4 separate regions of the Homo sapiens genome follow, and all the other regions are reported to be linked to region 1. The links are microRNA targets in miRTarBase. Many come from high-throughput screens and were not tested one by one. Region 1 holds a microRNA gene; each other region holds the end of a gene's coding sequence.

Region 1 (7,655 bases):
TTGGGGGCCCCCAGATGCCCCGGGTCTTCCCCCAGATCCTAGGGGAGCAACCGCGAGAGAAGTGGGCGCTCCGGGCTCCAGGTGTCCGCAGGGCGGGGCCTCCGAGGGGGCGGGGATTTGGGGGCGGTTCCTCTGCGCGGGGCGGGGCCTCATAGGGGCGGGGCTTCGAGGAGGTGAGGCGGGGCCTGGGGTGGGGCTTCGCGGAGGACCCTGGGAACGGGCGGGGGCGGGGACTAAAACGGGGCGGGGATTCGCGGGGGTGGGGCGGGTCCTGGGGCGGGGCTTCGCGAAGGAGGCTTGGAGGACGAGGAGGGGACAGGGCCTGGGGAGGGGCTTCGCGGAGCAGGCCTGGGAGACGAGGAGGAAACAGGGACTGGGGCGGGGCTTCGCGGGGCGGGGCCTCCGGGGGGGCGGGGCCTGGGCGCGGCCCGGGCTCGGCAGCTCTCGGGGAAGCTCTGCTCTGGCTCCGGCAGGCACAGGCGGCTCGGGAGGTGCGCGCCGGCTCCGCCCCCGGGCCCCGCCCGTCCGCCGCGCGCCCGCGCCTCCCAATTCCCAGAGCCGGGGCTGGGGCTCTAGGCTGCCGCGGCGGCTCTAGGCTGGGCTGCTGGGCGCGAGGCCAGGGCGGGCCGGGAGAGGCTGCGCCGGCGGCGGATCGCGCAGAGGGCGGTGGCCTGGGCTGGCCGAACCATGGCGGCCCCGGAGCCGGCGCCGAGGCGGGCCCGGGAACGGGAGCGGGAGCGGGAGGACGAGAGCGAGGACGAGAGCGACATCCTGGAGGAAAGCCCGTGTGGTCGCTGGCAAAAGCGACGGGAGCAGGTGGGCGCGGGGGTTGGGGCACGGGGTGACACCGCCCTCCCAGAGCGGGAGGGGCCTGGAGGCTGCGCGGGGCGTGGGGGCGCTGGGAGAGCGCGGCGGCTGGAAACCTCTCCGCGGCCCCTCGCGGCCCGCGAATCAGCCACCCCTGGACCCCTTTGGCCTGGCGCTCGCCCTGGGACTCCCTGAGGGCCAGTCTCCTCCCAGGACCACCTCCCCATGCCTCTGGACTCAGCCGCTAGCTTCCTGGGGATCCCCCTCGACCCCCTGAAACCTGCTCCAAATCCCCTTAGCCCAGCCCTTGGATAGGAGCCCTTGGCTCCTGGGGGCAGCTACCCTCCAAGCCCCACCTTCCCGCAGAGTGGCTCAGGGCCTGCAGCCCACGCTTGGGCCCACTGGAAAGGTGTGGACAGGGACCAAATCCTCACCCACAACCCTGACACACACCAGGGCACACATAACCCTTTATTCACCCCCAGGTAAACCAAGGGAACATGCCAGGGCTTCAGAGCACCTTCCTAGCCATGGACACGGAGGAGGGGGTAGAGGTGGTGTGGAACGAGCTCCACTTCGGAGACAGGAAGGCCTTCGCGGCGCACGAGGTGAGACCGCTGCCCCCTCCTCATCCTGCTTGGGTGACCACCTGCTGACCACCCAGCGACCACCCTCCCTCCCCAGGAGAAGATCCAGACCGTGTTCGAGCAGCTGGTGCTGGTGGACCACCCGAACATCGTGAAGTTGCACAAGTACTGGCTGGATACCTCTGAGGCCTGCGCGAGGGTGAGCACGGGCAAGGCCCCGGGCAGGCAGAGACCACAGCTAGGTGGGGCGGGCATGGGGACGAACCCGCAGCTGGTGGAAATCCTGAGCTCGCACCGTGCAGGTCATCTTCATCACAGAGTACGTGTCATCAGGCAGCCTCAAGCAATTCCTCAAAAAGACCAAGAAGAACCACAAGGCCATGAACGCCCGGGTATGGGGAGCGGGCTGGGGCAGCCACGGGGACAGGACGGGGTTGGGGCAGCCTCGGGGACTGGGATGGTGAGGGGGTGCCCGGCGGCCTCGGACAGGGGCTGGGCGAGGATGCGGGGCGGGCTCCGCAGGCCCAGCCGCCTCTCCTGCGCCCACCCGACCGACGGAGTCGTGCGTCCGCCGCCAGGCCTGGAAGCGCTGGTGCACGCAGATCCTGTCTGCGCTCAGGTGAGGGCCTGGGCTGGCCTGGGCGCGGCGCCACCGAGCCCCCATCTCTCCAGAGCCTCCTGACCGGCTCCTCCTACTCTCCCCTCCCCAACGTCTGCAGCTTCCTGCACGCCTGCAGCCCCCCAATCATCCACGGGAACCTGACCAGCGACACCATCTTCATTCAGCACAACGGCCTCATCAAGATCGGCTCCGGTGCTGGCGGGGCAGGGCTGGGTGGGGGAACGGGGCAGGGGAAGGTGCCTGGAGCCAAGGGCAGAGGAGTTCTGATGCCCCAGCAGCTAACTCCACTCTTTCTCCCGCCCCTTGGCAGTGTGGCACCGAATCTTCTCCAATGGTAAGTGCGGACTTTGGGGGGACGGGGTCCTGGAGAGGTCCCCGCCCGCTCAGCTCTGCGCCCTCCCACAGCACTTCCAGATGATCTCCGAAGCCCCATCCGCGCTGAGCGAGAGGAACTTCGGAACCTGCACTTCTTCCCCCCAGAGTATGGAGGTGAGTGGTGCTGGGTCCGGGTGCCCCGTGCCTACCCTGCGCTTCTCTCCTACGTGTCCTGTGCTCTCTTCTGTTCAGAGGTGGCCGATGGGACCGCTGTGGACATCTTCTCCTTTGGGATGTGTGCGCTGGAGGTACTGCCCCCGCCCTCCACCTTGTGCTCTGCCCTCCTCCTAACTGTGCCCTGCCTGGCTCACCTGTGTGGTCCCTTCCCCATGCCTGACCTGGCTCTGTGCCCCAGATGGCTGTACTGGAAATCCAGACCAATGGGGACACCCGGGTCACAGAGGAGGCCATTGCTCGCGCCAGGCACTCGCTGAGTGACCCCAACATGCGGGTAAGCAGCTTGCCCTGCCCCTCCCCAGCTGGCTCACCGTGCTCAGCTAGGGCTAGCAAGGTGCTCCAGGCAGACCTGGGAGAACATCACAGTTTGTGCAGTTGAGGGGTATACCAGCTGACTGCACCCCTCCCAAAGAGGACCTCAGTGGGAGCACATACTGGTTCCAGGCCTGAAGGCCCTAAGGGGTCAGCACATTCTAAGGACAAGAAGGCAAGAGAGACCCTCCCTCTGTGGCTGCCATCACCATGCCCGTTTTATAAAGAAACCAAGGTTCAGAGGAGATGAGTCCTTTGCCCAAGGCTTTAGAGTGAGTGGTGGAGCCAACATCTGCACCTGGGTCTGCTTCACTCCAAGTCCTTGACTTTAAGCTTCCAGGAGGTGATGAGGCTCCAGCTTGTGGGGGGACATGGTGGGTGCCAAGCAGGCAAAAAGAGGTATGGGATGGAAGCTGCATCCACAGCCCCCTCTGCTCGGAGTCTAGACTTAACTCCATGGCCTCAGGAGATGGGGGTGCCTGGTCGGGGCTGGTGGCGAGCTGGAGCCGGGCTGGGCACGGATGTGGACAGAGTGGGGACCCATCAAGGTCGTCTCCAGTGTTGGGCCCGAGCTGAGCCGATCAAAAGGCCATGGGTAGGAGGCTTGCAGGTGTGACTTTAGGATCATGGCTTCTCCCCACGATTTTTTGGGGGTCGAGGGAAGCAGAGCATGGTGCTCCAATCCCAGAACCCAGCTGTCCTCAAGCTCAGAGGACCAGGTCCTGGCCTGGCTGCTGCTGCTGGGACTCCTCCCTATGGGCATCCCTGCATGTCCTGTGTGTCCCTGAGGAGGGACATGGGGAACTCAGGGGCCACCTCTCCTCGAACTGCGGGGCCAGAGCAGAGAGCCCTTGCACACCACCAGCCTCTCCTCCCTGTGCCCCAGGAGTTCATCCTTTGCTGCCTGGCCCGGGACCCTGCCCGCCGGCCCTCTGCCCACAGCCTCCTCTTCCACCGCGTGCTCTTCGAGGTGCACTCGCTGAAGCTCCTGGCAGCCCACTGCTTCATCCAGCACCAGTGTGAGCAGCAGGCCGGCCCGGGGGGTGGCTGGGGAGGTGGAGGTTGGGACGTGGAAGGGGCCCTGCAGGACCCACGGCCTGAGCACACCGCCTTGATGCTCTTGTGGCCGCAGACCTCATGCCTGAGAATGTGGTGGAGGAGAAGACCAAGGCCATGGACCTGCACGCGGTCTTGGCGGAGCTTCCCCGGCCCCGCAGGCCCCCGCTGCAGTGGCGGTGAGCAGTCAGCACCCAGAAGCCTCCCCTCCCCACACCTCCCCTCCCCGCACCTCCCCTCCCCTCGCCCCGGCCAGCCCCTCATGTGCCTCCCACTTCCATGCCAGGTACTCGGAAGTCTCCTTCATGGAGCTGGACAAATTCCTGGAGGATGTCAGGTGAGAACTGATGTAAGGTTGGGGGCCAGGCAGCTGTCAGGCCTGAACCCCCAGCCACCCTGTTGTGTCCCCAGGAATGGAATCTACCCACTGATGAACTTTGCAGCCACTCGACCCCTGGGGCTGCCCCGTGTGCTGGCCCCACCCCCGGAGGAGGTCCAAAAGGCCAAGACCCCGACGCCAGAGCCCTTTGACTCTGAGACCAGAAAGGTGAGTCCCCTCTCCTGCTGCTCAGTGCCATCCCTCAGACCTTCTAACAGCCAGATAAGAGGTGCCCCTCCTTCTCTTAGGGCCTGCATCCCCACAGCCCAGCTCTCCTCCTGGCTGCCAGAGACCAGATCCAGGCTGACCCCCTTGTGGGGGTCATGGGGGTTATAGGACAGGCTGGGCACTCTCCTTTTCCGGGAGGCTCCCTGTCCCCTCAGATCCTTCCCCTGCATCCTGCTGCCTGCCCTGAACCTACTCCAAGCATCCTTCCTCCAGAACTCACCCGGGCTCTTCCACCCTGCCAGCAATCTTCCCCCACCCCCGCACCCCTCCCACCCCCCCCACCCCTCCCATCCCCCACCTGGTGCTGATTCCCGGACATCTATGTCCTGGTGTCTCCCCAGACTTTTCCTGCAGCACCCCCTCCTGGCCAGGGGCCTCTCTCGGTGCAGTGCAGCCAGAATTCATGTCCTAACAGGCAAACTGCCTGCTCCTGGCTGCCAGCAGAGATCATGGGAGTCCTCAGCTGACACCCAGGCTCTGGGAGGCCTGATCCCGCAGGCACCGTGCACTTCGGCGCGGTCCTGTCCCGCCCAACCTCCCTTTCCCCACGCCCACAGTTCCCTCTTTGTTCAAGTTGTTCTCTCCGCGGTGAAAGCTCCTATTCAGCCTTCAGTACCCAGCCCCTAATGTCGACTCTTCTCGAAGCTTTCCTTAGCTTGCCAAGCCACTAGCAGTGAGATGGGCTCCTCTTAGAGATTCCCCCCTTTCCAGTCTTTGCTGTCCCTTCCCGGCCCCTTTGGGGCCGCGGCATGTGGTCTTGCTGCTGGGTTTGTGAGTCCCAGCCTTCCCCCGCTGCAGGTCATCCAGATGCAGTGCAACCTGGAGAGAAGCGAGGACAAGGCGCGCTGGCATGTGAGCGGGGCCTGGGAGGGCGGCGCTGCCGTGGGGAAGGCGGGAGCGTGGCGGAGCCCTGAACCCCCAGCCGACCACGCCCCGCCGCCTCCCCAGCTCACTCTGCTTCTGGTGCTGGAAGACCGGCTGCACCGGCAGCTGACCTACGACCTGCTCCCAAGTAGGCTGGGCAGGGGACTTGGGCGGCGGGCGGTGACCCCAGGCGGCGGGTGGGCAGCGGCCTCATGCCTCGCCTTACGCCATTGCCTCAGCGGACAGCGCCCAGGACCTCGCCTCGGAGCTCGTGCACTATGGCTTCCTCCACGAGGTGCGCTGGGCGGTGCGGCGCGGCCTGGCGGAGGGGGCGCACGGGGCAGGCCGCGCCCCTCCGTCCCCCATGCCTCCCTCCTTCCGCAGGACGACCGGATGAAGCTGGCCGCCTTCCTGGAGAGCACCTTCCTCAAGTACCGTGGGACCCAGGCCTGACCCGGAGCCCCAGCCCCAGGGGACCATGCCGGGGTGCTGCCTGGGCAGGCCATGTTGGGGAGACTCCAGCACCGTGGGGCTGCCCTCCTCCATGCGCCTGGGAGCACAAAGGCCCCGGTAGTGAAGGAACCCCCCGTCTCCTGAGAGTGGGGCTGACCCTGCCTTGGGCGCCGAGGGGTTGGGGGGTGGGTGTGGGGGAGCCGTTAGGCCTCCCAGGTCCTTAGGATCAGGGTTGCCCCCAGAACCCCTTCCCATATCCTCCATTCTCCGCCCTGAGTTCCTACCCAGGCTGCCTGGCCGGGGCCACTGCCTCCTCAGCATGCAGGAGGCTGCCCTGTAGGGAACCCCAGCTCTGGGGCTTGGGGGTGAGGGTCAGCCCTGGACAGACCTCTGCCCAGGGAACTGCTCCATGGGGTCTGGGAGAGCAGCCATCCCCTGCTGGCACCATAGACCCACACAAGGAGCCTGCACAGCAAGCCAGCGGTGACACACCTGCAGGTGTCAGGCATGGCACTGGGCACAACAGGGACCTGGCAGGAGAAACAGACCACAGAGAGGTCTGGAGTTGAGGCTGTTGTCAGCAAAGCCCCTGGTCCCACACAGCTCTGCCCTAGAGCCACCTCTTTGACCCTTTACCCACCCTGAGACCAGAACTTGCAGCCCCTCTGCAGATCTCCTCTGGCCACTGCAGCCCCTCCAATGGGCTTTTTCTCTCATGCATTCCCTGGCCTGGAGGCGTCAGGGACCCCACATCCTCCCTGCTCCTCAGACTCACAGCCCCTCCATGTTACCTCCCGCACCTCCTCCCTGGGGCAGCTGCTCCCTGGGCCTCTGAGGATGTCAGCTCCTGGCTCCCTGCCTCTCTCCCACTCCACTCCTGGCTCAGTCTTAGAGATTTCTATGCCCTCATGGATTCTACCCCTGCCTTCCTGGCCTCTTGATTCTTGGCTTGCCTCTCCTCCAATTCCAAACTTAGTGAAATGGCCTTAAGCATTTTAAACTGTATGTATACATTAGCGCATTCATGCCTTTCTAAACGCATTTCAAATGTCAACCAGGAAGGCACACCACTGTATTAGTTTTATACTGCCGCTGTAAAATTTACCACAAACTTAGTGACTTAACACAAATTTATTGCAATTCTGTAGGCTGGAAGTCTGACTATGGGTCTCACTGGACTAGAATCAAGGCTGGCAGGCTGCCTTCCTTCCTGGAGGTTCTAGGGGAGACTCTGTCTCCTGCTCCTTCAGGCTGCTGGCAGAATCCACATCCTTTCGGTGGCAGGGCCAAGGTCCCCACTTTCTTGCTGACTGTAAACTAAGGCCACTTCCAGCTTGTAGAGGCTGCCTACATTCCTTGGCTCTTGGCCCCCTCCTCCATCTTCAGAGCTAGCAGGTTCAGTCTGTGTCACGAACCATTTCTCTGGTTCCCTGCAGACAGGAAAGGTTGTCCCTAAGGACTCATGAGATTAGGTTGGGCCCAGCCAGATAATACATGATAATCTCCCTCCTCAAGGTTTTTAATATTAAACACATCTGCAGGACACATTTTGCCATGTAAACTAACATTCACTGGTTCCAGGGATTAAGGAATGAACCTCTTTTGTTGGGGAAGGGTGGCATTCTGCTGACCACAGCACTCCAACCAAAAGCCAAAAACCAAAGCAAGACTTACTAACGCATATCAAATAAATTAAAGGTACAAAATCGTGAATCTCAGTTATCTTAAATATTCCAATACTATTTACAAAATTATTCAAATTCTCACGCCTTCCAACTCAAAATTAGCAATCTAA
Region 2 (7,655 bases), not on the chromosome of region 1:
CCATTCACGATTGCTACAAAGAGAATAAAATACCTAGGAATACACCTTACAAGGGATGTGAAGGACTTCTTCACGGAGAATTACAAACCACTGCTCAAGGAAATAAGAGAGGACACAAACAAATGGAAAAAAAATTCCATGCTCATGGATAGGAAGAATCAATATCACGAAAATGGCCATATTTCCCAAAGTAATTTATACATTCAATGCTGTCCCCATCAAGCTACCACGGACTTTCTTCACAGAATTGGAAAAAACTACTTTAAACTTCATATGGAACCAAAAAAGACCCGCATAGCCAAGTGAATCCTGGGCAAGAATAGCAAAGCTGGAGGCATCATGCTACCTGACTTCAAACTCTACTACAAGGCTACAGTAACCAAAACAGCATAGTACTGGTACCAAAACAGACATATAGACCAATGGAACAGAACAGAGGCCCAAGAAATAACACCACACATCTACAACCATCTGATCTTTGACAAACCTGACACAAACAAGCAATGGGGAAAAGAGTCCCTGTTTAATAAATGTTGTTGGAAAACTGGCTAGCCATATGCAGAAAACTGAAACTGGACCCCTTCCTTACACCTTATACAAAAATCAACTCAAGATGGATCAAAGACTTAAACGTAAGACCTAGGACCATAAAAATCCTAGAAGAAAACCTGGGCAATACCATTCAGGACATAGGCATGGGCAAAGGCTTCATGTCTAAAACATCAATTCTTTTAATGATGAAACTGAGGTACAGAAACAAACTTGTCTAAAATCCTGTGGCTAGAGCCAGGTTAAATCCCATGCTTCAGCCTCAACTAGTAGGGTAATACTTTCTGATTTTTAAGTGTGTCAAATGTATCCCTAGTATGCATGGTATTTTAGGTAATAATTATCCTTTCTTCTCGTACGTATTAGAAAAAATATAATGAACAAACCAAGCCTGGGACTTCATAGTTATTCTTGTTTAGGAATTTTTTTTTTTAAGTGAATTTCTGGCCAGGTGCAGTGGCTCATGCCTGTAAACCCAACACTTTGGGAGGCTGAGGCCGGCAGATCATTTGAGGTCAGGAGTTTGAGACCAGCCTGGCCAACATGGTGAAAACCCATCTCTACTAAAAATACAAAAATTAGCCGGGTATGGTGATGGGCACCTGTAATCCCAGTTACTTGGGAGGCTGAGGCAGGAGAATCGCTTGAACCTGGGAGGTGGAGATTGCAGTGAGCCGAGATCACGCCACTCAACTCCAGCCTGGACAATACAGCAAGACTCAGTCTAAAGAAAAAAAAGTGAATTGCTTTAAATAATAAATAATAAATTCAGATGGAGTGTAGACATGATTAAAGTTGTGGAGGTGGCCTCTATGTGCTTGAGATTTAGGGAACTGTTCCCTACCTTATATTATAGATGCTATTCCTCTTATTTATAACAATGTTAAGATTTCATCAATTTTAGTAGCGATTCATCCTGTGCAATGTATTAATACAAGGAAAAGGTAAGTAAAAGTTATTTCATGAATATTTTCCTCAACAGCATTTGTCTTTCTTACTTTTAAAAATTACTTTTCCATTTCCCACACCAATGTAACTGAACAGTATTCATTGTATACCAAAAGTATTTCCCTTAATCCAACATTATGACTTACTACAAATAGAAATGAGGCATTTTTATAATCCTTTATAAAAACTTGGAAGCCATCTTAAAATGTTTCACAGAAATTGCAAATACAGTATTTTGAATAGGGTTTTCAAATGTTTACTGGGGATTCGGAGCACAAATCTCCTTTTGAAGAAGAGAAATGTGAACATTAAAGACTCTTATTGTCCAGTGTGGATGAAAACAGAAACATAATTCACAATTTGTTGCGGACAAGGAGCCTGGCAGAGAGAACGTTTCCATGGTCTTACAAGGGTATTACCCACCTACCCTACTAGCATTTTTTTTCACTGTGCTGACAAGAAAGGAAAAATACTCACAACCAGGTTGCTAAACTAAGAGCTTTAATTAATGAGACTCCAGAAAGGGCCCTAGCAAGATAAAAATTTGATTGCACTGTGTTCTCTGACCTCAACTGCAGGTTCTCTGACTTCTCTTTTGTGTTTGTTTGTAGACCTTCAGTGTAAAGATATAAGGGCTCTCTGAGATGGCAAGCTGTTTTGCAAAGAAGCCTCTTCACACATCTGGAATATAACCTCTTAAACCTAACCCAGGTTTATGTTAACACCATGGCTCATAAACCATGCTTAGACTGCATGGAACCATAAACATGTTGAATGTAGGAAACACGGTTAGTTTATAAATTGGGCCTGCTATTAAGTTCTGAGGTCATTAGTTTTTTTTTTTTTTTTTTTGGTCCTTTCTTTTTATTTTTCCAAACTATACGTGCTTTGGAAATCTAAGGGGTGGGTAAGAAAACAGTTTAGTCTGTTTTTTTTCCATGGTTGCTTCCACCAAGATGCCTCTGGCCTTTTCTCATCCAAATGCAACATAAAGCTCTTTCTCGCATATCACCACCATGACTACCACACAAAGCCAAGATGTCTCCATTTTTAAATTTTTTGCTTCACAGACTTACTACTAAACTCAGGGGTGATGGGGGAGGTGGCAACATGAGGCCCAGAATCATGCATCTCTGTGTGATATTGGGTAAGTTACTTCACCTCGCTGAGATGTTTATGGGTCTATGAAAGGAATGATCTGCATCATTTGCTCACTAGATCCCCCTTTACATCTAAGCCATGATAATACTCCAAATAAGATGATAGGATTTTATACAGGCGTGCCTGTGTATTGACCTTTTTGAGTTGGAGTCTTGCACTGTTGCCCAGGCTGGAGTGCAGTGGCATGATCTTGGCTCACTGCAAGCTCCGCTTCCCGGGTTCATGCCATTCTCCTGCCTCAGCCTCCCGAGTAGCTGGGACTACAGGCGCCTGCCACCATGCCCGGCTAATTTTTTGTATTTTTAGTAGAGACGGGGTTTCACCATGTTAGCCAGGATAGTCTCGATCTCCTGACCTCATGATCTGCCCGCCTCGGCCTCCCAAAGTGCTGGGATTACAGGTGTGAGCCACCACACCCGGCTGCATATTGACGTTTTGATCAATCACAGACAGCACATATGACACTGGTTCCATAGGATTGGAACACATTTTTACAGTATCTTTTCTATGTTTAGCTATTTTTTTTGTTTTGCTTGAGACGGAGTCTCACTCTGTTGCCCAGGCTGGAGTGAAATGCTACAATCGCAGCTCACTACAACCTCTGCCTCCTGGGTTCAAGCAATTCTCCTGCCTCCTGCCTCAGCCTCCTGAGTAGCTAGGATTACAGACACCTGCCACCATGACTGGCTAATTTTTGTATTTTTAGTAGAGACGGGGTTTCACCATGTTGGCCAGGCTGGTCTTGAACTCCTTACCTCAGGTGATCTGCCTGCCTCAGCCTCCCAAAATATATATATATATATATATATATATATATATATATATATATTTTTAATCCCATCCTAAAGAAAAGCTAGTACACAAATGCTTACCACTGTGTTACAGTTACCTTCAGTATTCAGTACTACTCTACATGCTGTACAGGTTTGTAGCCTAGGGGCAACAGACTGTATCATATAAACTAGGTGTGTAGTCGGCTCTACCATTTGGTTTGTGAGTACACCCTATGATATCTGCACAACAATGCACTCACCTAATAGTGCATTTCTCAGAAGGCATCCCCATTGTTAAGTGATGCATACCGGACTTCATGCATTTAAAAAAATGCCAGAACACTCCTTACTTAGTGCATAGACTTTATCAAATGTTGAATAAAAACAGAAACAAAAAGGAGACAATCCTACAATGAAAAGGAGACACTCAGGTCCACCCTAGTGATTCCTTGTATGTGGAGGAGGTAAGTGGGACATGGACAGTTCTAAAATATAGTACGTATATACCCGACAACCACAGTGTTTTGCATTTCTTTATCAGTGAAAAACAAACTGATATCTGAAGTGTATAAACAGTTCCCTAGTAGTCTATTTGAGAAAAAGTATCAAATGTGCATCAATATGTTAAAACTGACAAATACAAGAAAAGCATTCAGCTAGAGAAAATTCACAGCATTTTATTCAAGTTAATCAATTTCATTCAATAATCTGCCATATTGTTCCCAGCACCACTATTACTGTTATTATTTCTCTTTGAGGAAGACCAGGTATTAAGAAATCTGGTTTGAATTTCCATGATGCCTAACTCTATGGTTAAAAATCCTTTTCCTTACCAAAAAGGAACTTCTTAATCACCAGAGAAACAGAGGGAAGACTGAGATATGTTTGCAGAAATTTATCTCTACCAGAGACAATTCATAGTTCATAATCTTTCAGGGTTGTGCTTTACTTGGGGGCTCCGTTTTCGGGAGCGGGTTGTTTCCCATAAATGTTTGCTTAATACAAATAATTTGCCCCACTGTACCACAGAAGGGAAATGAGGGCTAGTGTCCCCAGAAAGCAAGCAGGCAGTCCTCCAGGGAAGAAGCCCTAATGGCTCCTAGTGGTGACAGAGTCATTCTGCCTCCCCAGCCTGTGAGCAATAATAAAGTATAACTAAGTGAACAGGAGAGGTAATAACTAGCCAGATAACCCATGGGCTAGAATCTCTAAACAGAAATGCTTGTGTTTTGAATAAATCAGAGCTGGAAAGACACACTTTTGGAGAAGTGATTGAGAATAGAAAGGTATGAAAAAGATAAAGGTTTCTCACCAACGAAACCACAAAAAAGGTGGTACCAGTCAAAGGTAGACTTGGGCTTTTATTTTGGGGTGAGGGTACCCCAAATGGGTTGTGCCATTTTCACATAAAAATTGGAATGATAATGAACAAGTGAAAGTGAAATCAGTTTCCCTCCTTTGTTCAATAAACATGGTTAGAGCACCTGTGTGCAAGATAGTGGGACAGGTGCTGAGGGGAAAGGTAAAGCTGTTTAAGCTGTGGCCCTGAGCTGAAGGAGCAATCTAGCAGTGCCATCAGGCCCTGCACACTGCAGAGCACAGTGTCCCAGGGGCCAGGTGGAGGGAAGGATCACTTCCGGCTGCAGCATCAGGGAAGGCACTCTGCAGTCTCCCCTCCAGGTTCTCAGCGTGCCTCTATGCCTGTGTGACTGCTCAGCCTGCCCCATTCCAGGCACTTGCTCATCTTCCTTATCTTTCTCTGTAGCATGAGAAATGGAAGTTTGAGAGGATAGGATCCTACCTCACAGGTACCTAATAAATGTGTGTGGAATTGACATATAGTGGAAGTGTCACTTTATCTTAGTGCAGCAAGGTGGAAAGAGCTTTGGAAAGGAGAGGAAAGATGGTGGTTGTGAGGGTAAGGTGTTTTCATCAGAAGGCGGGAGCAAGGGTATACAAACCAAAAAGTCAGTTTAGTATGTGGCTTAGCTCAGAGCACACGAGGGTACCAACACAGCCAAAGACTGTAAGAAGGTAGCTGAAGTCCTCTGCCAAATAGGATTGAAAAGCTAAAATCTTTCTCTGTTTCTTTCTTAAGTAACAACTGGTCTATTCAAGCTCAACCAGAGCATATAAGAGAAAAAACTGACTAACGAGGGGGTCTTAAAGAGCTTTGAAGGACAGTTTCTAGAAAGTAGAAAGATCACTGAGTAAATTACTGCACCTCCTCTACCCCACAAAAAAAAGGGTGAGGATGAATGTAAAAGTGTAGAGCAAGCTTTCAGACAACTTCAAGTTTGTTTTTGGCGCTTCCGTTTGTAAGCAATCAAGATGGTGAGAGACGCTATCCCAAAGAAGAAAGTCTGTAGGAACCAGAGTAGCTGAGCCCGACCACTTGTGATGCCTTTATGCCTAAAACAGAAAAAACAAAATTTAAACACGAGATGTTAATCTTACAGTTTCATGGGAGTTATTGTCTTCTATATATATATTTTTTAAATTATACCTTCCACTACTTTCATTGGGTTTATTTTGCTGCTTTTCTCTGGCTTATCTTGGATGGTTCATTTATTTTTCATCTTTCTTGTTTTCTAACAAATGTATTTTGGATGGTAAACTATTCCCTGAGAACTAGTCTGGCTACTGTCTAGGGCACAGTATTATAAGACTGTTTCTCATGTGATTCTGATGAGCGGATGGAGTAAAAAGCACTGGTATGGTTTCAGAGCAAATGTTTTGCAAATAGACCAGATATAAATCCTAGCGTGGCTACCTACCAGCTGTGACCTGGGCAAATCACTCAGAATCTCTCAGAATCAGTTTTCTCATCTGAAAAACAGGAACAGCAGTAGCTATCTCACTGAGTCAGTTGAGATGATTTATGGGATAATACACACAACATGCTCAGGAAGGAGCCTGGCACACAGTCATGATAAACACCTGCTTATATTGTCATTCAAATTCAACTGCCTAAAATGAAGTGCAAAAAAAAGATGACCCAATGGAAGGGAATGGCTTGCTACAGTCTCATCTGTACATAAATAAGTCTCACTTGGATGACTTTTATTTAAAACAAACTTTAAAAACAATATATGTAAAAGCAATATAATTTTCTACAGTAACAGATTAAAACAGAAAGATCATATGAATATCTTAATAAATGCAGAAGTGGCATTTGACAAATTTCTTTTTTTTTTTTTTTTTGAGATGGAGTCTCGCTCTGTCACCCAGGCTGGAGTGCAGTGGCGCGATCTTGACTCACTGCAAGCTCTGCCTCCCGGGTTGATGCCATTCTCCTGCCTCAGCCTCCCGAGTAGCTGGGATTACAGGAGCCCGCCACCACGCCTGGCTAATTTTTTGTATTTCTTTAGTAGAGATGGGGTTTCACTGTGTTAGCCAGGATGGTCTCGATCTCTTGACCTCGTGATCCACCCACCTCGGCCTCCCAAAGTGCTGGTATTACAGGCGTGAGCCACCACGCCCGGCTGCATTTGACAAATTTCAACATCCATTCTTTTTCCAACCCCCCCAGAGATGGGGTCTCACTCTGTCACCTACAGTGGAGTGTACTGGTACAATTATAGCTCACTGCAGCCTCAAACTCCTGGGCTAAAGCTATCCTCCCACCTTAGCTTCCCAAGTAGCTGGGATCATCACAGGCACGCACCACCATGCCTGGCTAGGTTTTTTGTTTGTTTTTTGTAGAGACAGTGTCTTGCTTTGTTGCCCAGGCTGGTCTTGAACTCCTGGCTTCAACTGATTCTCCCACCTCAGCCTCCCGAAGTGCTGGGATTACAGGTGTGAGCCACCTGCATCCACATCCAACATCCATTTTTAATAAAACTTCTCAGCAAAGTTAGAAATACAATGGAACTTCCTAATTTTGACACAGGAGATCTACAAAACTCTATAATAAACATGATGCAAAATGTTGAAAGTTCTCCTTTGAGGTCAAGAACAAGGCACACTTCTAGTCAGCACTGCTGGAAGTTCTAGCTAGTAGAATAAGGGAAGAAACATAAATAAAAGGTATACAGAATTGAAAGAAAGAAATAAAACTGTATTTCTGGACAGTTTTATACCTAAAAACTGAAAATAATCTATAAACTGTTACAATTAATAAATTTATTTAGCAAGATTGCTGGGTATAAGGTCAATATAAAAAATTGACTATATTCATACAAAGTACCATCAGACAATTAGAAAATGAAATGAAACAAAGGG
Region 3 (5,284 bases), not on the chromosome of region 1:
GGGGAATGTGTAGACGGTGAGAAGACTTCCCAGCTCCTCTTCCTCCCTGATTGTTCTGCCTGCCAGGTGCTCACCATCGCGGCCACGGAACCGGTCACCCTCCTGCACTCCAAGCCCCCCAAGCCCACGCAGGCCCGTGGAAAGCCTTTGCTCCTGAGCGCCCCTGGAGGACAGGAAGACCCCGCCCCTGAAATACCTAGCTCTGCCCCTGCTGCACCTAGCTCCGCACCCAGGACTCCTGACCCTGCCCCTGAGAAACCTTCTGAGTCGTCGGCTGGTCCCTCCACTGAAGAAGACTTTGCTGTGGACTTTGAGAAGATCTACAAGTACTTGTCCTCTGTCTCCCGAAGTGGCCGCAGCCCCGAGCTCTCAGCAGCTGGTGAGAAGGGTGAGGGAGGGGGCAGGAGCAGAGGGATCAAGGGTCCCTGGCAGCAGGCAGGGGTGTCCCCTTACCCCTCTCCTCCATCCATCACTAGAGTCCGCTGTGGTCCTCGACCTGCTCATGTCACTTCCAGAGGAGCTGCCACTCCTGCCCTGCACAGCCCTGGTTGAGCATATGACGGAGACGTACCTACGCCTGACAGCCCCCCAGCCCATTCCCGCTGGAGGGAGCCTGGGGCCTGCAGCAGAAGGGGATGGGGCTGGCTCCAAGGCACCAGAGGAGACCCCCCCAGCCACCGAGAAGGCCGAGCACAGCGAACTGAAATCGCCTTGGCAAGCAGCTGGGATCTGTCCCCTGAACCCGTTCCTGGTGCCCCTGGAGCTTCTGGGTCGGGCAGCCACCCCTGCCAGGTGAGGGGCATGGCGGGCAGGAGGCCACACCAGGCCCCCCGCCCTGCCCCTCGGTTCTGCTCGGCTGGCCCTGGCTCTTTCTGAGGATCCCGTCATGGGGGAAGGTCCTTGAGATGATGCTCAGCTGTGGGGCGGGCCTCTAAGATGCCCCATACTTTGGGGGTCTCAGAAATGGAACCCCCGTTGTACAGGGGTTGGGTGGGGGTTGCAGGACTCCACTCACAAGCCTCCTGATGTCAAGGACAGGCGGACAGGGCTGGCCTCCCCCAGTCCCCAAGCCCCACTGTGCCTTGTTGTCTGCTGGGGGGCCATAGCTGGCACTGCCCACCGTAAAGGCCCTCGCACATTTTCCCCCTTCCTGTACACCTCGGGGCCAGCATCCTCACCTTCTTCAACTGACCAGTCGTGGTTACTCCCTGCTGCCAGGTCCTTCCCCTTCCCGGGGGTATTCTGTGACCATGAATAAAGTTATCATTCTCTTTCTCTTTCACCTGTGACTTAAAGATGGAAGTGGGGGCCCTGAAGTGTCAGAGCTTGGGGGTCACAGGGCTGGGGGTGTGTGCCAGGGAGGAGAGCTGCCACCTGACTGGTGTGATGAGGCCTGGGGTGAGGAGCCCCTTGGTGACTGTGAAGCTGACAAGTGTGGATGGGGAGAGCCGGCAGGGCACCTTGGGGACAGGCGTCAGGGATGGGTTTCAGAGTAGGGCAAAATCACATCGCACAGGTGGAGGGGAGAAGGCAGCAGAGAGTGGGGGTGACCCGGTGGAAGGAGTTGAGCCCCAGGCTGGGCGGTTAGAGGAAGATAGATAGGGGTGGGCTGCCCCGAGTGGCAGGAGGCTAGTGGGAGTGGAGTGTCCCCTGGGGTGGCTTTGGGACCTCAAGGATCCCTAGAAGGCGGGGAGGGAGGGGTACTGGAGTCAGGGCTGACCCCAAACCCCTGGGGGTGCTGGGACCCCGCTTGAGGCCCCCTCCATCAGCTTCACCTGCCCTGTGGGTGTGGACCGAGGGTCGGGTCCTAGAGAGGGAAGCAGATGTCCTCCCACGGCACCGCGTCCCACGCCCAGCTAGTAATCCAAGTCGGTAAATTCTCCGTTCTCGGAGCCTGTGCATTCACCCAGCCTGCCTTTTATAGAAACGCTCATTCCTCCCCCCACACACTGCACACGGCTCCCCTGGGGTGCACATCTCTTGGGAGGGCCTTGGAGCACAGCCAGCCCACTCCGTCCGTGGTCACCGCCCCACCGCACCAGACCCACAAACGCTGCCAATGGTGGTGGGCAGGGGGAGGAGGCTTAGGCTGCAGGTACGGTCGGTCGTCGGAGCCTCCCTCCAGGGCTGGCAGAGGGTGCGCCTCCCAGTTCCCCACAGGGCTGAGTCTCTCTCACCACCCCCGGCGCCTCCCCAGATCAACAGAATTGTGTGTGGAGGGGAGGCAGCTGGGGGTTACACATCAGCCCCCCCCCCCAAAGCCGGTGAAAGGTGCTTGTGATCTTGGTGTCTTTGCAGCCCTGGGAAGCTTTAAAAACATGCAAAAGCCAGACCTGGGTTCCACTTCCAGCCCTACCAGACTCTAGCCATGTGACTGTGGGCAAGTCAGTCACTGGAGCTGCCTGGCCCTCGGTCTCCTGGCCTGTAGAATAGGGATGCTAACAGGGCCTGGCTCATTCTCACGATCCCGAAGAGGAGACAGGCTATAAACAGGAGGTGCCAACTCAGCACGCTACTTGGCATGCAGTAAGCGCTCAATAATAGCTTTTATTATCATGTTCGGCTCAGAGGCAGGGAGGAGTGGAACGGCATGGGAGGGCTGCGGGAGGCACGGCAGGGGGGTCAGGGGCAAGTGGCAGGAGGGCGGATGGGGGGCAGCGGTGGGCACCGGGGCAGGGCGCGCTGACCTGTCCTGGGGCCCGGGTTGGGGGCAGAAATGAGCCTGCCCACGCTGTCCCGCCACGGCAGGCGCCACGCATCCTCGACACAGCCGCCATGGCAGGCCTTCGGGCTCCGTCTCCGGGACAGGCGGTGCAGGGCAAATTGGTATGCAGCGTCCGCCCCGTGGGCCCGGGAGAGCCTGCCCCGCAGGGACCAGAGCCCAAGGACGGGCTCAACACTCAGTCAAGGTGGGGTTGACGACGGCCAGACAACAGGGGAGGGAGGAGGGACAAGGGGGTCCCCACTTCCAGGGACGCACAATAGCAGAGCCACTTACACGCTGGGGAGGGGGCGGTGCGGGGGTCCTCCTCCCGCCCGGGATTCAGAGTCGGGGGTGGGGGCCAGCCGGGCGGGTGAGATGCGCAGAGAGGAAGGGACAGGGCGGATAAAGGCACGAGGTGGGGCTCCGGCCAGGCCAGGAAGGGACATGGGAGGGGTCTCGAGGGGGAGGGGCTGGGCTTCTCCCAACTCCCTCCCCCTCTCCCCCGGGCTGGGGGCTCCGGGGCGGGATCCTGAGCGCAGTCCTGGCCCCGCGGCGCCCCCCGCCGGGCCGGCCCTCTGAGACCCCGGCGCAGGGCCGGCTAGGGGGCGCCGCGCCCCTCACACCAACGCGTAGTCGAACTGCCCGCGCTCGAGCGCCTCCTTGTGGTCGGTCCAGGACGAGGCGGGCATGCGGCTGTAGGGGTCGAGCAGGATGCGCACGCAGCGCACCATCAACAGCACCAGCACCACGAGCAGGCAGAGCACGAAGGCGAACACCGTGCGCTGCTCCGCGTCCAGGCCCGCGCCCACCGGGGGCCCCGTCGACGGCGGCAGGGGCTCCGGCGACAGCGTCCACGTCGCGCTCATGGCTCACATCGCCGCGCGCCCTGCGGAGGAGGGGACCCGCCCCGGGCGCCGGGGATGAGGCTGCGCCCTCCCTCCCGCGCCTCCTCCGCTTCGCCCCCTCCTGCCGCCGCCGCCGCCGCCTCCCTTAACGTGCCCGACCCCATCCCCCGCCCGCGCCTCGGTCCCCGGGCTACGCCCATGCCCGGCCCGCCGGATCGCCGCCACCACCACGCGGGGACCCAACTCTGGCCGTGCGCGCAGGTGGGGGCGCTGAGAGCCGGGAAACGGAGCCGCGCCCGGCCTGGGCCGCACACAACAGGTGCGAAAGCGCGGCCGCGGCCCGGGCGCGCGGCGTGGGGACGGTCCCCGCGGCCCCTGCCCCCGCTCCCTTTGTTCTCGGCGGCCTGGGACCCCCTCCCCCACCGCCCCCGCCCCGGCGCGCCCCTCACCCTGGCTTCGACCCGGACGGGGACCGACCGCCCGGCGGCCGCGCTCTCTCAGGGACCCGCGCCGGCTGCGCGTTCGGCCTCTCCCCGGCGGCGGCGGCGGCGGCCCGGGCTCCGGCTCAGCCCACCCCACCCGCCCCTGGAGCGGCGGAGACCGAGGCAGGCAAGCAGCGCGCGAGCCGGGCCGCCGCGGCTGTTCCTATGGCGACGGGGGCGGGGCCGCCGCGGGGGGCGGGGCTGCAGGGGGCGGAGGCTGCGCAGGGAGCGGCGCGCGAGCCAGCGACCCCGCCCGGGCCTGCGGGAGGACGGAACCCCAGCCCCGAGGACCCGCGAGCACCCACGACCTCGCCGGGGAGTGGGCAGCTGCCACTCCCACCTCCCCTGGCACTTCGGGCCCCCCAGCCTGCCCTGTGCCTGCATTCTCCTCCGCGATAGACCCCACTCGAGACTCCCTGTTTGTGGGGGGACCTCAGTGGCCCTAAAACACTCATATGGGCACTCAAGCTCCCCCGGCCCTGGGGACCTCAATTCTCAGAGAGCTCAGGCAGGTCACTGGGATGAGTAAGTCCCCCTAGTTTTGTCTGTCACTGGCCTCGTCTTCCAACTCAGGGTCCAGCCCTGGGCAAGGCGTCCACCCACTGCGGCTGCAGTTCCTCACTCGACCTTGACCGCCTCCCACAGCAGCCGCCTGCTCCCACCCCCACCATCGCCTCGGCCACTCCCGCGCCAGAGAAGACACTTCAGACTCCGTAGCTGCTCTTCTGCAATTCGGTGTTTTATTCTTTCCAAATCTCAGGCTTATGCACAAGATGGAAGAGCACTGTTAAAATTAAAAAATGGACCTAAAGTGGCTTGGCTGACGTGGCTAGCGGGCCACTGAGCCGCGGGTCCCGGGTCCCACCCTGCTGTGGGGGGAGTCCCTGGGCCCTGGGGCCTCTTGGCACTGTGTGACCTGTGTGCACCCCAGGTGACCAGGCGCCGGGACCCCTGCAGGGCAGAGCAACAGGGCAGGGGTTGGCCCTGCGGGGGAGTGTCTCCAGCTGCCGCGCACCCGCAACAGCCCGTTGTCCCCTCCCGGGCCAGCTGGTCTTGCAGCCGTCCTGGCAGAGCTGGGGGCAGAGCCCGCAGTCTTGTTCCCAGAGGTCTGGAGTTGCCGCAGGTGGTGTTGCGGTGCCTCTGTGCCTGATGACCCAGGCCGGGGCTACCTGGCTCCGGCACCACACTCAGAGAATCTGCTCGGTGCTGGAGGCCGAGATGTCCAGGAGCCGCCAGGCCGCGTAGGGGTTGAG
Region 4 (7,655 bases), not on the chromosome of region 1:
AGACGGGGTTTCACCATGTCAGCCAAGAAGGTCTCGCTCTCCTGACCTTGTGATCTGCCTGCCTCGGCCTCCCAAAGTGCTGGGATTACAGGTGTGAGCCACTGCACCCGGCCGACTTTTTTATTTTTTTGAGACGGTCTCACTCTATTGCCCAGGTTGGAGTGCAGTGGCACCATCATGGCTCACTGCAGCCTTGACTGGGCCCAAGCGATCCTCCCACCTCAGCCCCCCAAGTAGCTAGGACTACAGGCATGTGCCACCATGCCAGGCTAATTTTAAAATTATTTTTATAGAGAAAAGGGTTTCACTACATTTCCCAGGCTGGTCTTGAACTCTTGCCCTCAAGGTATTCTCCCACCTTGGCCTCCCAAAGCTCCAGGATTACAGGTGTGAGCCACCGCACCTGGCCAAAACCTAAACTTTTTTTTTTTTTTGAGAGAGTCTCACTCTGTCGCCCAGGCTGGAGTGCAATGATGCCATCTTGGCTCACTGCAACCTCCACCTCCCGGGTTTAAGCGATTCTCCTGCCTCAGCCTCCCGAGGAGCTGGGACTACAGGTGCATGCCACCACGTCTGGCTGATTTTCTTTTTTTTGAGACAGAGTCTTCGCTCTGTCACCCAGGCTGGAGTGCAGTGGCACAATCTCGGCTCACTGCAAGATCTGCCTCCAGGGTTCAAGCCATTCTCCTGCCTCAGCCTCCCAAATAGCTGGGACTACAGGCTCCTGCCACCATGCCCGGCTAATTTTTTTGTATTTTTTAGTAGAGACAGAGTTTCACCATGTTAGCCAGGGTAGTCTTGATCTCCTGACCTCGTGATCCGCCCGCCTCGTCCTCCCAAAGTGCTAGTATTACAGGTGTGAACCACTGCGCGCAGCCTAATTTTCGTATTTTTAGTAGAGACAGCGTTTCACCATGTTAGCCAGGATGGTCTTGATCTCCTGACCTCATGAACCACCCACCTTGGCCTCCCAAATTACTGGGATTACGGGTGTGAGCCACCGCACCTGGCCTAAACAACTTTTTTTTTCTTGTTCCCTTTGTCTGTGTCTCTAAATAAATAATGTTACATTACAGTTTTTTTTGTTGTTTTTTTTTTTGAGTCGGAGTCTCGCTCTGTTGCCAAGGCTGGAGTGCAGTGGCACGATCTCAGCTCACTGCAACCTCCACCTCCCAGGTTCAAGTGATTCTCCTGCCTCAGCCTCCTGAGTAGCTGGGATTACAGGTGCCCACCACCATGCCCAGCTAATTTTTGTATTTTTAGTAGAGATGGGGTTTCACCATTTTGGTCAGGCTGATCTCGAACTCCTGACCTTGTGATCCTCCCGCCTCAGCCTCCCAAAGTGCTGGGATTACGGGTGTGAGCCACCGCACCCAGGCTCTTTTTTTTTTTTTTTTTGAGAAGGAGTCTTGCTTTGTCACCCAGTCTGGAATGCAGTGGAGTGATCTCGGCTCACTGCAACCTCCCATCTCCCAGGTTCAAGCGATTCTCCTGCCTCGGCCTCCTGAGTAGCTGGGATTAGAGGAGCCTGCCACCATGCCCAGCTAATTTTTGTATATTTAGTAGAGACGGCATTTCACCATGTTGGCCAGGCTGGTCTCGAACTCCTAACCTGTGATCTGCCCGCCTTGGCCTCCCAAAGTGTTGGGTAAGCCACCGTCCCCAGCCTCCTTAGAGTTTTCTACTTTGCTTATTTCCTTAATGTCTGAGCACAAATATTTTTTCATGTTGTTAAAGTTTTTGTCATTTTCATCTTTATGATATGTAACATTTCGGATTGGCTAGTATATTGTTGTCCTTATCAACTTTATGATTTTGTGATGGATAGTTTGCTTTGTAGTTTTCTTTTTTTCTTTCTTTTTTTTTTTGAGACGGAGTTTCACTCTTTTCTCCCAGGCTGGAGCACAGTGGCGCGATCTCAGCTTACTGCAGCCTCCGCCTCCTGGGTTCAAGCGATTCTCCTGCCTCAGCCTCCCGAGTAGCTGGGATTACAGACAGCTGCCACCATGCCCAGCTAATTTTTGTATTTTTAGTAGAGACGAGCTTTCATCACATTGTCCAGGCTGGTCTCGAACTCCTGACCTCAGATGATCCACCCGCCTCGGCCTCCCAAAGTGCTGGGATTACAGGTGTGAGCCACCGCGCCTGGCCTGTAGTTGTTTCATAATATTCAATTATGGTGTGGAATTTATCCTATGTTTACCCATTATATATTTTTTAAAAAGAAGAGAAGCCTATTTGACCGTATTTTTCCTTTTCACATTTTTTTCCTTTGAAATTCTTTAGGACACATATTGAAGGAAATGTGGATATTGGAGATTTGACCTGGGAGCAGAAGGAAAAAGTATTGCGATTGCTCTTTGCAAAAATGAATGGCTGTCCTTCTAGGTAACTCCCTATTTCTGCAGTGAAATACCAAGTTGTTATCAAATCTAGAAACCACTTAGGAACAAAGAACTTATTTTTCTTACTTAGAACTAAAGGGACGGGAAAGGACCAGAAAATATAAAAAGGCCCTACTGCTTAACTACTGCAGCTCCCAGAGATAAAGAATGGGAGATTAATGAATGAGCATGAAAATGAAAGATGAGTTGGAATTAAAGGGGGAGGGGAAAGATTCATCTTAGATGTTTAAGGTAGTGCTTATTAAGAAGTTACAATATTGCTCAGCTGAATGAGTGGCAACTGAAGAGAAACATAACAATATTAAGATTTTATTGGTTTGCAAAGATAAGTATTTTTTTTTTTTTTTGAGATGGGGTCTCACTCTGTCACCCAGGCCAGAGTGCAGTGGCACAATCACAGCTCACTATAACCTCCACTTCCCAGGTGCAAGTGATCCTCCCACCTCAGCCTACTGAGTAGCTGGGACTACAGGCATGTGCCACAACGCCCGGCTAATTTTTTTTTTTTTTTTTTTTGAGAAGGAGTCTCATTCTGTTGCCCAGGCTGGAGTGCAGTGATGTAATCTCGGCTCACTGCAACCTCTGCCTCCTGGTTCAAGTGATTCTCGTGCTTCAGCCTCCCGAGTAGCTAGGATTACAGGGGCCACCACCATGCCTGGCTAATTTTTGTATTTTTTTGTAGAGATGGAGTTTTACCATGTTATCCAGGCTGGTCTCGAACTCCTGACCTGAGGTGACCTGCCCGCCTCAGCCTCCTAAAGTGCTGAGATTACAGGCATGAGCCACTGTGCCCGGCCCTAATTTTGTATTTTTAGTAAAGACAGGGTTTCACCATGTTGGCCAGGCTGGTCACAAACTCCTGACCTCAGATGATCCACTCACCTCGGCTTCCCAAAGTGCTGGGATTACAGGCATGAGCCACTGCCCCTGGCCAGTTATACATTTTAAAATAACTAAAAGAGTGTAATTGGATTGTAACACAAGGGATAAATACTTGAAGGGATGGATACTTCATTCTCTATGATGTGATTATTTCACATTGCATGCCTGTATCAAAACATCTCACGTACCCCACAAATACGTATACCTACTATCACCCACAAAAATAAAAAATAAAAAAAAATTAAAATACAAAAAGAAAATATGAAGGCATGAGGAGACACTGCCTCATTCATTATCTTTGTTGACTTTTACCCACTACAGGAAATACAACCAGAGTTCTAGGCCTCCAGTTCCAGACTATGTTGTTTCTGACAGTGGGGAAACAAAGGAATTTGGGTAAGAGCTCTCTTGCTTAAGTAATAAACATGAGCCCAACACGATGGTTCTTGTGGGCATCTTGAATGTGCTAATTGAAAGTAATATGACAAGTCTGTTATTCTAAACCAGGTTTCATGTGTGTAGAGTTGTTGACGGTTCTGTTATTTTGTCATTATTGCAGGGATGAAAGTAAGCTTCAAGATAAAATCTTCATCACCCAGCAAATTGCAATATCAGACTCTTCTGGTGAAGTGGTGCTACCCACTATTCCAAAAGAACCTCAGGAGTCTGACACAGTAAGGAGTCTGTATCTAATCAAACAATGTATATTGTTGTCACCCTTCCCCATGTCGCTTCTTGCTAAATCACGGTTATTTTCTCTACTAGTTGAGAGACTTCAGGGATCAGTGGAATGAGTAATAAATAGCATTAGTAGATTACATAAATTTTTAAAGCAATATCCGTACAAATGCATATTATACTAATGCAAATGCAAATGTGTGCCTCTTTTTGTGTAGAAACCTATAGGTTGCCTTTTGAAGTAAACAGCCTAGCCAAAATGTGTACTATCTTTTACGTAAGAGTAAACATAGTGACCTTGTGACTCTTAGCTTTCCATCACAGGTGGGAAGTCAGAGTCATTACAACCTAGAGGACAAAGGCTTATAAGGAGATATGAAATGATTTTTTTAAGCCAAGTTTTTCTCTTTAAGAGTTTTTAATTTATAATTTGTTATTCATAATTAGTACAATGTAGAATCTGAGAAATTTCAAATGAAGCCACATTAGAACAAAAAGAAAATACTGACTTTTTAGCCGCGATCACATGAATATAACTGATGAGTTTTTTTCATCTAAGAAATAAGAAACTCTGAGCAGCAAATAGTTGGCCAGATGAGTTGTTTCTAATTAGAGCATCACAGTTCTGATTAGTGTGTTTTTTTAGAAGTGATTTCCCTTAAATATAAGGAAAATGTTAGGAATCTCTGTGACTACATTTAATTCCACTTGGAATATAGACAATAATGACCTTTTATTTAACCCAGCCTATAGTTGTTGGATTGGATTAAATATCACTACCAGGGCCAGGTGCGGTGGTTCACGCCTGTAATCCCAGCACTTTGGGAGGCCGAGGTGGGCGGATCATTAGGTCAGGAGATTGAGACCATCCTGGCTAACATGGTGAAACCCTGTCTCTACTAAAAGTACAAAAAATTATCCGGGTGTGGGGGCATGCACCTGTAATCCCAGCTACTCGGGAGACTGAGGCAGGAGAATTACTTGAACCCAGGAGGTGGAGGTTGCAGTGAGCCGAGATCGTGCCACTGCACTCCACCCTGGGCAACAGAGCGAGACTCCATCTCAAAACAAAACAAAACAACAACAAAAAAAATCACTACCAGTTGCCAGCTGTGATAAGAGCTAAAACAAGGGGTACTGTAGTCTCAAATTATAAATTTCTATTGCCTCATATTTAGGAAAGCAGAAAAAAAAAAAAAAAAGGCCCAGTAGGATCATAAGTGTATTTTACAAAAGTTCCAGTCACCTTAAGTGATTGAAGGTTTTGACATTTTATCCAGCCAGGTGGTAGTAATAAGCCTCAAATCCACAGGGTACACAACATTTTCAAGGTCTTTTTTTTTTTTATCATACTTAATTCATGAATAACCCCCATAGTGTAGGTTAGTTAGCACTATCAAAGTGACTGGTAAGGACGCAGGAAAATAAAAAGAGGATTCAATTGGATTGGTACTGCAAAAAGAATCCATTCTGTTCAGCACATGAATTTCTGTTCTGACCTTAAGTTTAGATATATCAAAGAAACAAAAAGCATAGAGGCGGCTGGGGGTGGTGGCTCACACCTGTAATCCCAGCACTTTGGGAGGCCAAGGCAGGCAGATCACCTGAGGTCGGGAGTTCGAGACCAGCCTGACCAACATGGAGAAACCCTGTCTCTACTAAAAATACAAAATTAGCCAGGCATGGTGGCGTATGCCTGAAATCCCAGCTACTCAGGAGGCTGAGGCAGGAGAATTGCTTGAACCCGGGAGGCAGAGGTTGCAGTGAGCCAAGATCACGCCATTGCACTCTAGCCTGGGCAACAAGAGTGAAACTCCATCTCAAAAAAAAAAAAAAAAAAAAAAGCGTAAAGGCAGTTGAACTAATGGCAGAAGAAGACTGTCAAAGCATTTTTTTTTAACCACTTTATGTCATGGAAAGCTTCGAAATTTCTTAGGCCCAGTTAATTGCTCTACATGAAGAGTTCTTCATTAAACAAATCACTAATTAGAAATACAGGCAAGAGAAAAGAATATATAAAATTTGGCAAGTAATAGCAGGTTAGATTTGCTTAAGGCAGGTGTCTTACCCATTTTCATGGTTGGAACAATCCTTGATTTCTGGGCCTAAAATAACTTTTGAAATAATTTTCTAAGAAAATTATTTGCATCTGGCTGGGTGTGGTGGCTCATGCCTGTAATCCCAGCACTTTGGGAGGCCGAGGCAGGCGGATCACCTGAGGTCAGGAGTTCGAGACCAGCCTGACCAACACGGAGAAACCCCGTCTCTACTAAAAATACAAAATTAGCTGGGTGTGGTGGCGCATGCCTGTAATCCCAGCTACTAGGGGGGCTGAGGCAGGAGAATCGCTTGAACCTGGGAGGCGGAGGTTGCGGTGAGCTGAGATCACGCCATTGCACTCCAGCCTGGGCAACAAGAGTGAAACTCCATCTCAAAAAAAAGAAAAAAGAAAATTATTTGCATCTGAATTAATGGCTGAAGTATTAATTAATGATTGCTGAAGAGAACCCTGAAACTTAGTACTTGGCACATATAACAAAAAGTTGATTTATCCATTGCTTACTGAGGTATCCTTGAGAAGTGATCTTAAGCAGGAGCAGTGACAATGATAGAATTAATAGTGGTCATGAATTACTAGGAAACAAAGTGGCATTGAGCAGAAAAGAAAGAAGCTGTTGCCACAACTTTGGGATATATAAAAATGGATTATATCTTGTGTATTGTGGGATAAAAGAGGGGCTAAAGAAAACTTTGCAGGAGGTCTCTCCCAGTGGCATTTAGGTAGCGCTATGTTTGAGGATCAACCAAAAGCGGTGAGTTATTTCTGTCCTGTTTCCCCATCTAAGAGTTCTTCTTGCAATTATTGGAACATCTTCTTTAAAAAATTTTTTTTCCCTTTTCTTTTTTTACTTTTTCAATTTTTTTAAATAATAGATACGGGGTTTCGCCACGTTCTTCAACTCCTGGGCTCAAGCAATCTGCCCACTGTGGCCTCCCAAAATGATGGAATTACAGGCGTGAGCCACCGCGCCTGGCTGGAACATTTTCTTTACATACACTGGCTTTTCTCCCCTTCAAATCATCAGAAAATGGGATAATTTTTAGAAATCAGGTTTAAGCACTACTTTCAGATAAGCATTTCATAGTTACAACAGTTACCTCAAAATAGAAGTATGAAGAGCAAGTGAGAAATCTGGTTTCATTGTTACACTAGGCAGTTCCCTATAGAAACTTTGCGGGGGTTAATAGTCCTGAGGAAGATTTTAGTTACAATGTATTCCAATCCCATCGATCTGATCTGAGCAAAGCTGACAAATGAAGCTGGTCAAAAATAAAGGGAGATTACTCAGGATGGAGTCAGTCTTAAACAAACTTGTTTCTAACGGCCCATGGTAGGCATGACAACAGCAGGTGAGGAAAGAGTAGCATCTTCTTCTTTCCACTGAGAAGTAATGGTCTTTAACTGAGTGTAGAATTGGATGCCCTAAGGAAAACAGAAAAAAAGTTAGCATATATTTCTGGGGTTTCATGATTCTTCTTTTAATTAGCTTTTGAAGGAGGTATTATAAAGTGCTACTCACTTTCCTAATTGAGAAATGCAATCAGAATCCAATATATATTGTTCCTAAGATAATTGATCTAAAACATTTAACATAATACCTGGCAGATAGTAAACAATCAAACCTTAGC

What was found. Region 1 holds the annotated microRNA hsa-miR-6845-5p (CGGGGCCAGAGCAGAGAGC, at 3,711-3,729, shown strand). A microRNA usually pairs through its seed, bases 2 to 8, with sites in the 3' UTR of a target mRNA and lowers its output. Matches are read on the target gene's strand: a 7mer-m8 pairs with bases 2 to 8, a 7mer-A1 pairs with bases 2 to 7 and ends in A, and an 8mer does both.
Region 2: the mRNA of TMEM254 is a reported target of hsa-miR-6845-5p. Seed matches in the 3' UTR shown: 7mer-m8 at 5,041-5,047.
Region 3: the mRNA of CTXN1 is a reported target of hsa-miR-6845-5p. Seed matches in the 3' UTR shown: 7mer-m8 at 3,059-3,065 and 7mer-A1 at 2,694-2,700.
Region 4: the mRNA of ALDH6A1 is a reported target of hsa-miR-6845-5p. The part of its 3' UTR that is shown has no 7-base or 8-base seed match.

The regions. Positions count from the first base shown.
Region 1 is chr8:143,833,867-143,841,521 of GRCh38, reverse strand. MIR6845 (microRNA 6845) reads left to right here and starts at 3,706; the gene lies at 3,706-3,766. NRBP2 (nuclear receptor binding protein 2) reads left to right here and starts at 549. Exons shown (of 18, transcript NM_178564.4): 1 at 549-816; 2 at 1,293-1,415; 3 at 1,492-1,593; 4 at 1,697-1,786; 5 at 1,973-2,013; 6 at 2,114-2,208; 7 at 2,327-2,350; 8 at 2,422-2,505; 9 at 2,584-2,639; 10 at 2,747-2,842; 11 at 3,767-3,899; 12 at 4,013-4,115; 13 at 4,223-4,273; 14 at 4,348-4,483; 4 more. The coding sequence starts at 688. The coding sequence ends at 5,860. RefSeq lists a silencer at 88-647 and enhancers at 1-662, 3,974-4,701.
Region 2 is chr10:80,088,985-80,096,639 of GRCh38, reverse strand. TMEM254 (transmembrane protein 254) reads right to left here. Exons shown (of 4, transcript NM_025125.4): 4 at 4,089-5,843. The coding sequence ends at 5,723. Among named protein-coding and RNA genes, the nearest start is that of TMEM254-AS1, 14 kb to the right of the region's middle.
Region 3 is chr19:7,921,969-7,927,252 of GRCh38, forward strand. CTXN1 (cortexin 1) reads right to left here and starts at 4,167. Exons shown (of 2, transcript NM_206833.4): 1 at 3,999-4,167; 2 at 2,523-3,590. The coding sequence starts at 3,570. The coding sequence ends at 3,322. SNAPC2 (small nuclear RNA activating complex polypeptide 2) reads left to right here. Exons shown (of 5, transcript NM_003083.4): 4 at 67-379; 5 at 477-1,282. The coding sequence ends at 796. It overlaps LOC124904629 (a long non-coding RNA gene), which reads left to right and starts at 3,437. Exons shown (of 2, transcript XR_007067120.1): 1 at 3,437-3,868; 2 at 4,605-4,842. It overlaps TIMM44 (translocase of inner mitochondrial membrane 44), which reads right to left. Exons shown (of 13, transcript NM_006351.4): 13 at 4,750-5,284. The coding sequence ends at 5,219. RefSeq lists enhancers at 1-200, 4,848-5,284 and silencers at 3,462-3,551, 4,082-4,351.
Region 4 is chr14:74,053,298-74,060,952 of GRCh38, forward strand. It overlaps ALDH6A1 (aldehyde dehydrogenase 6 family member A1), which reads right to left. Exons shown (of 12, transcript NM_005589.4): 12 at 3,550-7,449. The coding sequence ends at 7,345. BBOF1 (basal body orientation factor 1) reads left to right here. Exons shown (of 12, transcript NM_025057.3): 9 at 2,287-2,388; 10 at 3,609-3,683; 11 at 3,847-3,961. Among named protein-coding and RNA genes, the nearest start is that of ALDH6A1, 27 kb to the right of the region's middle.